3 linked regions of the Homo sapiens genome follow. The protein of the gene in region 3 interacts with the protein of the main gene of each other region in a pairwise test. Each region holds a gene or a part of one and is shown on either strand. Other genes may lie near its edges. The genes, in order: FAXDC2, TMEM201 and CYB5R3.

The links.
Region 1: the proteins of CYB5R3 (region 3) and FAXDC2 interact in binary tests that used the Homo sapiens proteins (3 or more experiments, as listed by UniProt).
Region 2: the proteins of CYB5R3 (region 3) and TMEM201 interact in binary tests that used the Homo sapiens proteins (3 or more experiments, as listed by UniProt).

What each region holds. Positions count from the first base shown.
Region 1 is NC_000005.10:154,848,497-154,852,246, forward strand, and holds the start of FAXDC2 (fatty acid hydroxylase domain-containing protein 2), read right to left. Parts: upstream 2,108-3,750; 5' UTR 1,987-2,107; intron 1-1,986. UniProt on the Homo sapiens protein: Promotes megakaryocyte differentiation by enhancing ERK phosphorylation and up-regulating RUNX1 expression.
Region 2 is NC_000001.11:9,602,889-9,606,056, reverse strand, and holds part of TMEM201 (transmembrane protein 201), read right to left. Parts: exon of another isoform or gene 1,108-3,168; intron 1-1,107. UniProt on the Homo sapiens protein: Critical regulator of angiogenesis and endothelial cell (EC) migration. Promotes the migration of endothelial cells, which is essential for angiogenesis.
Region 3 is NC_000022.11:42,632,361-42,636,010, forward strand, and holds part of CYB5R3 (NADH-cytochrome b5 reductase 3), read right to left. Parts: intron 1-3,650. UniProt on the Homo sapiens protein: Catalyzes the reduction of two molecules of cytochrome b5 using NADH as the electron donor.

The sequences.
Region 1 (3,750 bases), on a different chromosome or scaffold from region 3:
ACTGTATGCTAGGAAAAAGCTGAGCAGTCGACCTCCAGGGCTGAGGAGACTGACCTGTAATGTAATTACACAGTTTAAAGCCTCTGGTGAAGAGGGTTTTGAGGAGCTGCTATGACTCAACATCTGTACTAATCTGAGGCTTATATAGAAGATAGAGTGGCCGATATTCATTTAAGAAGATGAAATGCGGCCAGGAGCGGTGGCTCGCATCTGTAATCCCAGCACTTTGGGAGGCCGAGGTGGGCAGATCACCTGAGGTCAGGAGTTTGAGACCAGCCTGGCCAACATGGCGAAACTCCGTCTCTACTAAAAATATAAAAATTAGCCGGGTGTGGTGGTGCACGCCTGTAATCCCAGCTGCTCTGGAGGCTGAGACAGGAGAATCGCTTGAACCTGGGAGGCGGAGGTTGCAGTGAGCCAAGATCATGCCACTGCACTCCAGCCTGGGCGCCAGAGCAAGAGTCTGTCTCAAAAAAACAAAAAAAAACAAAGATGAAATGCGGCTGGGCACGTTGGCTTATGCCTGTAATCTCATAACTTTGGGAGGCCGAGGTGGGTAGATCACCTGAGGTCAGGAGTTGGAGACCAGCCTGGCCAACATGGTGAAACCCCATCTCTACTAAAAATACGAAAATTAGCTGGGTGTGGTGGCGGGCACCTGTAATCCCAGCTACTTGGGGGGCTGAGGCAGGAGAATCTCTTGAACCCAGGAGGTGGAGGTTGCAGTGAGCTGAAATCGCGCCACTGTACTCCAGCCTGGGTGACAGAACGAGATTCCATCTCAAAAAACAAAAAAAACAAAAACAGAAGATGAAATGCATGAAAGGAAAGGTTAAAAATGATTCCCATGGGCCAGTTTTAGTAATACTCTCTTCACTCCTTTTGCTGCATGGTACTTGCACCCTTTGAGCTTACTGTTCTGCTTGATTGCATGTCCATGAGGCCGAGAATCTGCCTGTCTTGTTTACCACGAGATCCACAGAATCAAGCCCAAGCCTGGCATGTAGAAGATACTCAAGAAAGATTTGCCGAATAAATAAGAGATACACGAATCAAAAGCATTGCTTTTTGCCCTCAAAAAGTGTTCAACATTTGCTATGGAACATTTTAGCACCATTCCCTTGTGCTAATTACTTTCGTAACTAAAGTTAGAAGCTGATGCTCAGTGCATCTGTGTTTTAGCAAATTGAATTGAATCTGTATATCCCACTCAAAGAAATTTAATTGGAATTGCACATGAAACTGAAGCAACCCACAAATCAGCATCTTGTCTTGCTTGCCTTAAGCCCCAGAAGGTCCTGAAAGCCACTGTTCTATTGTTCATCTCCACCTACACACTTTACTGTATGCCCTTTACTCAATAACCTTCGTGGAGTGTTTCCATAGGTACTATCAAGCCACTAACGATTTCACAACTGGAGCCACTGTTGGTAAATCCAAGTATGTTGCATCAAAACAGTTTCAACCTACTTGTCTAGCTCATAGCCCACACATCTATCCAGAGACTTTAAAACTGTTGTATTTTGCCCCATACCTTCCTGGTGATGGCAGAGTAGAGATGAGAAGCAATTAGGCAGCAGTTGCTTCCCAACAGTCTCTTCCAGTTTGTTCTGCCTCTCATTTGAGTTCTGAATTAGGAGTTGCTCCTTTACAAATGGTTTTAAAGTCAAACAATTACTTGTCCATTACAATCACCTGTCAATTGCTAGAAAAATTAGACTACTGAGGAGGTAGATGGTACAAACACAGGCAGAGGATACAGACATTAGTAAGAGACAAGGAGGCGACTGCACTACAGCAATGTCCTAGGACAAATTCTAACCCTGCCATCTAACCCTGTTTAGAGGCAAATCTAACCCTGCCATAAGTAGAGAGGACAGGGTGGTGGCAGAGGTGGGAAGAGTGTTGTTTTGCCCTTACTTTAAGTGAACCTGGACATGTCCTGACCTTTGCAAACACCACCCCTCCCCCGTAGTTCCCACTTACCTCTGCAGTGGGCTGTGTCCAAGCTGCTGAGGTCCTTGCACAGGTCAAATCTAAGTTCTCTTCCCTTTCAGCCCCCGCTTTGGTGGCTGTTGCTGCTGCGGCTCTGCTGCAGGCTAACCTTGTTTTTGCTCGGGTGGGAGGCTGGCCATGGTGATCTCATTACAGAGCTGCGTACTGGCTCGGACCAGGCACGTGATGAAAAAAGTTTGGGTCTGTGTGGGCTGGAAACAAAACACCCTTCTTTCCAGAGGGCATGTCCTTAAAGCGGAAAGGGAATCTAAGCTCAAGCAGGAACTTGAAAAACGTGCATTTGGCCAAACTCTGGGCTTCCCTCCCCCTGCCCCCTTTTTTTCTTTTAAAAAATTTTCTCCATCATCTGCAACTTAAGAAAATGTCGCTGTCCCATAGGAGGAGGCAGATTCAAGAAAAGATGTGGGTGTCAGATAATGGCAGGTAGTACAAGTTGATAAAAAGGTGACAGAGACCAGAGGATCTCATTTTCTTTTTTTTCATTGCTTCTTTTCCTGTGGAGGGCAGGCAAGGGAGGAGAGATGCATCAGCTATTTCTAGTGAGTCTAGATGCAGGAAAGGCATGCCTGTGGAGGGTAAATTTGCACTGTGATTGAAATAGGGGAACTTAGGATACAGGACCCATGACATGAAGTGAGGAGCACTTTGGAAAAAGAGCTGCTTTTAAATTTCTGAAAACTTTTTAAATAAGCAAATGTGCAAATGATATAAAATACAATAGGGTCAAAAGAATGTACAATGAAAAGTCTTTTTTTAATTTCTCCTCAGTCCCCTTTTTTTCCTCCCAAGAGACAACCTCTGTGACCAGATTTTTGTATATCCTTCCAGAGCTTACCTCTGTAAATAGAAACATGTGTAGGCCTTGTGCTTCTCCTTTAGCAACAGCACCATAGTATGTTTGTTGTGCACCTTGCTTTTTCCACTTAACAATCAAACATGGAGATTGGCTAGGCATGGTGGTGCTCACCTGTAGTCCCAACTATTTGGGAGGCTGAGGTTGGAGGATCACTTGAGCCCAGGTATTTGAGACCAGCCTGGGCAGCACAGGAAGACTCCTTTCTAAAATAAACAAAACTCAGAAACTTGGCTGGGCACGGCGGCTCACATGTATAATCTCAGCACTTTGGAAGACCAAGACGGGAGGATCACTTGAGGCCAGGAGTTCAAGACCAGCCTGGGCAATGTAGCAAAACCCCATTTCTACTACATATACAAAAAATTAGTAGAGCTTACTGGCACATGTCTGTTATCCCAGCTACTGGGGAGGCTGAGGTGGGAGGATGGCTTGAGCCCAGGAGTTGGAGGCTGCAGTGAGCTATGATTGTGCCCTGCACTCCAACCTGAGTGACAGAGTGGGACCCTGTCTCTAAAAAACAAAACAAAATAAAAAATGCCGGGTGCAGTGGCTCATGCCTGTAATCTCAGCAATCTTTGGAAGGCTGAGGCAGGAGGATTTCTTTTTTTTATTTTTTGAGATGGAGTCTTGCTCTGTCACCCAGGCTGGAGTGCAATGGCATGATCACAGCTAACTGCAACCTCCGCCTCCTGGGTTCAAGCGATTCTTCTGCCTCAGCCTCCCGAGTAGCTGGGACTACAGGTGTGCGCTGCCAGGCCCGGCTAATTTTTGTATTTTTTTTTTTTAGTAGAGATGAGGTTTCACCATATTGGCCAGGCTGGTCTTAAACTCCTGACCTCATAATCTGCCCACCTCAGCCTCCCAAAGTGCTGGGATTA
Region 2 (3,168 bases), on a different chromosome or scaffold from region 3:
ACCTTGGGGCATGACCCTCCATGGGAGGGAGTTTGTGGGGCAGGGCTCTGCGCTAGGCTTCCTGTGCCCACCCTGCCCGGCAGCACAGACATAGCCAAGAGTCAGCCAAGGGTGACCAGGTCCCCCAGTGACCTGAGAGTACCGTTGGGGGATGTGTGAAAGGAGGGTCCTAGTGGGCTGTGGGTATGAGGTGGTCAGCTGGGCCACGCAGCTCCTGGCCCCAAAGGGTGGGCTCTAGCAGGAGTGGCTGGGTCTTGCCAGTGCATCCCCACTCCTCCCAGCTCCTGCTCACACCACCCGGGGCTGCCTCAGTGCTTAAAGGCTGAATCTCCTGGCCACCTGGCACAGGGGCTGTTGTTCCCAGTTTGGTGCCACTGAAGATGGTGCTGTGGGGAGTTCCTTCGCAGTTTGACTCCCTCACTGTGATATGTGGGAACATCACTCAACCAGCAAGACCTCGTAAATCGCTCACAGGGCTGGGCATGAGGGGCTGGGCTCTGTACAGGCGCCCCAGCGAGCCTCCGCCAGCTAAAGGAGCCCAATCTGTTGGACCCTGGAGAACTCCAAAGGTGCTAACATTTCCTTTGGCGAGAGACCCCCCCCGACTGCCCTGTGCCCTCAAACCACGTCTCAGAGAGGGACTAAGAGACCAGGATCAGGCCTGGATGCTGGCTCTGGGGAGTGTCAGAGAGGGACTAAGAGGCCAGGATCAGGCCTGGATGCTGGCTCTGGGGAGTGTCAGAGAGGGACTAAGTGACCAGGATCAGGCCTGGATGCTGGCTCTGGGGAGTGCCGGAGCGGATACGCTCATCTGACACCAAGGGGAGATGTCTGGTCTTCTCCGACCCAATCCCAGCCCACATCAGGAGTGGAAGGAGAGAGACCACGTTTTAAGCAACAGTTTATTGAGACGGAAAAAATATGATCCAGCAAAGGCGAGGAGGCGAGCCGGGCCCCGAGCCAGCTGGTGTCATTGTCACTGGCTCCCAAACCTGACTCCTGTGGACGTGTCTGTACCCCAAACACAGCTGCCCACCCCAGCCCTGGCACAGAGCCCTTCTGAAAGAAAGAAAAAAGAAGAAAGACGCGGCACCTGACGCCAGCGGGTAAAAGCAGGGCCCCAGAGGCATTTATTGAAAACACAGCATCCAAAACACGACATCTAGGCCAGGCGCGATGGTTACAGTGATGAGAGGGTCACTAGACAATTATCCACAATTCTACGACATGAGACAGAGACTCAGCAACAGTCACAGACAGAAGGGTCATGTGTTCCTTCCTGGGCAGGGCTGAATGTGGCAGGTGCGGCGTGGAGGCTGCGTCCTGGCGGTTTGCTCCCAGGCAAGGGGTACGGGGGGCCGGCTTGGCCTGGGTGGGGACCTCAAGTCTGAGGGTGAGGATGGCTGAATCTACCTCGCTTATGTCTCAGGGACGGTCACCCATACCTAGGATGACCCCAGCCAGACCCTAGAAGGTCTGATGGCCATCCCAAGTCCCCCGCGAGGAGAAGAGTTCCCTGGCAGGGGTGACACATTCCCGGTCAACAAGCCACAACACAGTGGTGCCTGCACTCTCTCAGCTGTTGCCACAACACTTGGTGCTGGAATTTTCTCCACGTAGTGAAACTTTTAAGGGACACATGAATAATTTAAAAAGTCACACAAAACTCTACGAAAGGCAGGAATCCTCACTCTGCTGAGAGCTACCTCCTGAGATGTCGCTTCCGGACCCCGGCAGAGGGCAGGAGCGACATCAGCTCGGCAGGAGGATCCTGGCCAGCGCGAGGGCTGGCTCTGGTTATTATAAATAATCTAATTTAAATACGCACATACACACAGATGTCCTGCTTCTACCCAACGCCAAGAAAAGCAGACATTAGCATCACACTGTCAACACTTCCTCGAGAACCGAAGATTCGAGACGCAAGCAACAGCATGGCCAGCCGACAGGACGCTTTCCCGTCCTGGCTCCACCACGTCCTTCTCTCAGATGGGCTCTTTGTGGGCTGGGGGGTGGCGTGAGTGCACAGGCAGGCGGTTCCCTGCCCCTCAGGTAGACACCATGGGGGGCCGCTTTGGCTCACCCGCCCCAACTCCTCACTGCAGAACCAGTGGGAAGCGTGGCCCCGACCACATCTTTTCAGAGGGGTTTTCTCACCTCACGCTCCACACAGAACAACAAGCTGAGCCCAGTAACGCTGGGGCCTTGTCTGAAGCCACGCAGGTCATCGGGCACAGAGGCCACAGAAGCCCCCGAGGGTCTCCCGATGCACCTGGGTTCCTCACTTGTGAAGCTGGGTGGGATGTGAGCTGCTACCCAATCACTGGGGTGGGGCAGCCTCTAGGACCCCCAGGCGTGGCAGATTCACAGCAGTGAGGCCTGGCACCTGCCCCCCCAACCCATCCCGGCAGACCCAGGTGACGGGTGTAACCCTCATGCACCTGTGATCTGCTCTTGCCTCCCCCGGGGTTCCAACGCACAGGAGAGAGGAGCTGGCACACCCTGGCCACATCTGGAAGGTGAACTCGTGCTCAGAGTGGCGAGTGGCAGGACATGTGGGCCCTGAGGGAGTGGGCAGCCAGAGGGAACATGCCCGGTGAGGGACGGCCTCGGGCCACTCTCGACTGGGACCCCTGGATAAAGCCCCCAGGCCGGGAACTTCCTCTGCACGTGGCAGCCCCTCGACTTCCAGAGTGTGTCCTCATGAGCCACCTCATGTGATCCCCACACCCACTGAGCTGGCACCCAAGGGCTATGGAGAGGGGTCCACCTCATTTCATAGATGGCAAACTGAGGCTGAGAACAGCAGGGGCCTGGCCAGGCCCTGCTACTGAGGAGCAGGTCTGTGGGCTGCCCCCTCACCTGAGTCGGAGGACAGAGTGGCGCTGGGCCATGGTGAGCAGGCACCTGCAGAGGCTCGTGACAGGTCAGGGAGGGAAAGGATGACAACGACCTGATGTCACTGAAGGCCTGCATACCCTGGGCCCCTTACCCTTGGAAAAGCTCAGATTCCCCAAGGTCAGCACAGGCTCCTACTGCCTGTCTCAGGTGGGGTCTCGCTCCCCAAACTCATGGCGAAGGCCAGGCTGGGCCCAAGAACTGCACTCTCCATTTCCGGGGACTCGGGAGGGTCTTGGAGCAGGAGGCCAAGCAGCAGCCAGAGCTGCA
Region 3 (3,650 bases):
TTAGAGGGGGACAACAGACCTCTCCAACAGGGCAGGACATCACAGATGCCCATCTCGGCTCAGTACGAGAACTCTCCGACCTGAGCAGTGTTCCAGCACAGAGCAGCTGCCTCAAGGAGAGACCCGTCCCTACACGTGTGAGCAGAGGCAAATCGCAGGAAAGACGGTGCAAACGCCACTCAGGATCAGGTGTGCAGGGGGCCCACCAACCTCTCCCAGGCAGCCCAGGCCTCAAAGCTGCCTCTACCAGAAGCTTCTGCATTAGGGGCAAACAGAGCCCCAAGGCCTTCTGGAAGTGGATTCCAGGACTATCAACTGGTCCTAAGGGTCAAGGTCAGACACCCATGTACCAGAAAATATTTGGAGGAAGAATAGAAATGAGATGGCCAGGCGTGGTGGCTCATGCCTGTAATCCCAGCACTTTGGGAGGCCGAGGTGGGCGAATCATCTGAGGTCGGAAGTTCGAGACCAGTCTGAACAACATGGAGAAATCCCGTCTCTACTAAAACTACAATGTTAGCCAGGCGTGGTGGCGCATGCCTGTAATCCCAGCTACTCAGGAGGCTGAGGCAGGAGAATCACTTGAACCTGGGAGGCAAGGTTGCAGTGAGCTGAGATCGCACCATTGCACTCCAGCCTGGGCAACAAGAGTGAAACTCTGTCTCAAAAAAAAGAATAGAAATGAGGACAAGAGATGAACAATTATGGTGCTGGCCAACCTCTAGTAGGGCAGCAGGGTGGGGCAAAGCACAGAGCACCCAGAGCAGGCCCGCTGCGGACCCCGCAAAGCCACCATGGGCACAATGAGGGGGCAAAGCTGCAATCCTAGGACATCTGCCACATGCTCCCTTGTGTAACATCCCTATGATGAAATACTAAAAGGATCCATGTTGTATGGCTGGCTACAAAACCAGGTTATCAAAAAAAGAAACTGAGTGTGCACACACCCGCACCTCCACACACCCGTGTATGAACGTGATACCCACATAGGGTCTGGCAGGCTCACGCTGAGCTGTGACCTGGGCCCTCTGCACGGGGCCCTGGGATGCGGCAATGGGGCAGGGGTGGAGGTCATACCTTACAGAGTTTTTGCTGTGAGCACATATAAATCATACATTATTTCTGGAATTAAGAAACAGTAGGGTCAGACGTGGTGGCTCATGCCCGTAATCCCAGCACTTTGGGAGGTCGAGGCGGGCGGATCACCTGAGGTCGAAGTTCGAGACCAGCCTGACCAACATGGAGAAACCCCATCTCTACTAAAAATACAAAATTAGCTGGGCATGGTGTCGCATGCCTATAATCCCAGCTACCTGGGAGGCTGAGGCAGAAGAATCACTTGAACCTGGGAAGTGGAGGTTGCGGTGAGTCGAGATTGTGCCATTGCACTCCAGCCTGGGCAACAAGAGCGAAAGTCCATCTCAACAACAACAAAAAGGAACGACAGTAACAGAGCCAGGCATAGTGGTGCATGCACATGGTCCCAGCTACTCAGAAGGCTTGTGCCCAGGAGTTTGAGGTTGCAGAAAGCAGCCTGGGTGACAGAGCGAGACCTTGTTCTAAAAAAACACAAACAAAAACAAAACAACCCACCAATAACAATAACAAGGGAAAATACCGTTAAAAAACAGGTTTCAAAATGTTATTATTTCATTTGGGTAAGAAAAAAACATGTGTGCCTGCTTACATAAGTATAAAACATATCACAGGGCCAGGCACGGTGGCTCACGCCTGTAATTCGAGCACTTTGAGAGGCCAAGTCGGGTGGATCACCTGAGGTCAGGAGTTCGAGACCAGCCTGGCCAACATGTTGAAACCCTGACTCTACTAAAAATACAAAAAAAAAAAAAATTAGCAGGGCGTGGTGGTGGGCACCTGTAATCCTAGCTACTTGGGAAGCTGAGGCAGGAGAACCGCTTGAACCTGGGAGGCAGAGGTTGCAGTGAGCCGAGATCACACCATTGCACTATAGCCTGGGCAACGAGAGCAAAACTCCATCTCAAAAACAAACAAACAAACAAAAAATCATATCGCAAGGTTAAGTGTGGTCTCATCTGGGAGGTGGTGATTTACTTTTTTTTGCTTTTTATTTTTTATTTTTTTGAAACAGAGTTTCGCTCTTGTCACCCAGGCTGGAGTGCAATGGTGTGATCTTGGCTCACTGCAACCTCTGCCTCCCAGGTTCAAGCGATTCTCCTGCCTCAGCCTCTCAAGTAGCTGGGATTACAGGCATCTGCCACCACGCCCGGCTAATTTTCATATTGATTGATTGATTGATTGATTGAGACAGCGTCTTGCTCTGTAGCCCAGGCTGGAGTGCAGTGGCACGATCTCGGCTCACTGCAAGCTCCACCTCCCAGGTTCACGCCATTCTCCTGCTTCAGCCTCTGGAGTAGCTGGGATTACAGGCATCTGCCACCACGCCCGGCTAATTTTCATATTGATTGATTGATTGATTGATTGAGACAGCGTCTTGCTCTGTAGCCCAGGCTGGAGTGCAGTGACACGATCTCGGCTCACTGCAAGCTCCACCTCCCAGGTTCACGCCATTCTCCTGCTTCAGCCTCTGGAGTAGCTGGGACTACAGGTGCCTGCCACCACGCCCAGCTAATTTTTTTTTTTTTTTTTTGAGACGGAGTCTTGCTGTCACCCAGGCTGGAGTGCAGTGGCGCAATCTCGGCTCACTGCAAGCTCCGCCTCCCAGGTTCACGTCATTCTCCTGCCTCAGCCTCGCCAGCGGCTGGGACTACAGGTGCCTGCCACCACGCCTGGCTAATTTTTTGTATTTTTAGTAGAGATAGGGTTTCACCGTGTTACCGGGATGGTCTCAATCTCCTGACCTTGTGATCCGCCTGTCTCAGCCTCCCAAAGTGCTGGGATTACAGGTGTGAGCCCAGCCACGCCCGGCCAATTTTTTGTATTTTTAGTAGAGACAGAGTTTCACCGTGTTAGCCAGGATGGTCTCGATCTCCTGACCTCATGATCTGCCCTCCTCGGCCTCCCAAAGTGCTGAGATTACAGGTGTGAGCCACCACGCCTGGCCTAATTTTCGTATTGTTAGTAGAGATGGGGTTTCACCATGTCGGCCAGGCTGGTCTTGAACTCCTGACCTCAGGTGATCCACCGGCCTCGGCCTCCCAAAGTGCTGGGATTACAGGCATGAGCCACCGTGCCTGGCCAATAATTTACTTTTCATTTTGTATTTTTTTGCTTCTCTCTGGTTGTCAACTTCTCTGTGAGCTCCTGGGACAATTACAGACACTTGCCCCAACAGTTACAGGAAACGGCCAGCTCCGTGCCATGGAAGCCTGAGATTCCTGTGAAGCCTGAGTCAGAGGCACCAGGCACAAGCCCAGGGTGGAGACTTGGGCCCTGGCAGATGATGTTCTCTGCTGTGACTCAGTTTTCCCTGCCACACCCCTCCTGTGCCTGCTGGGGGTGGCCAGAAATAGAGCAAGGGAGGGGCTCTGAAGAGGGCAAGTGACCGATGGAAGCAGCCTTTACTGGGGGCAAGGCAAAAGAGGGAGAGGATGGTTTTAAATCATAATCAGAGCTTTGAAAAAAAGGAGTCAGGCCGGGCACCACGGCTCATGCCTGTAATCCCAACACTTTGGGAGGTGGAGGTGCGGGGATCACTAGAGCCCAGGAGT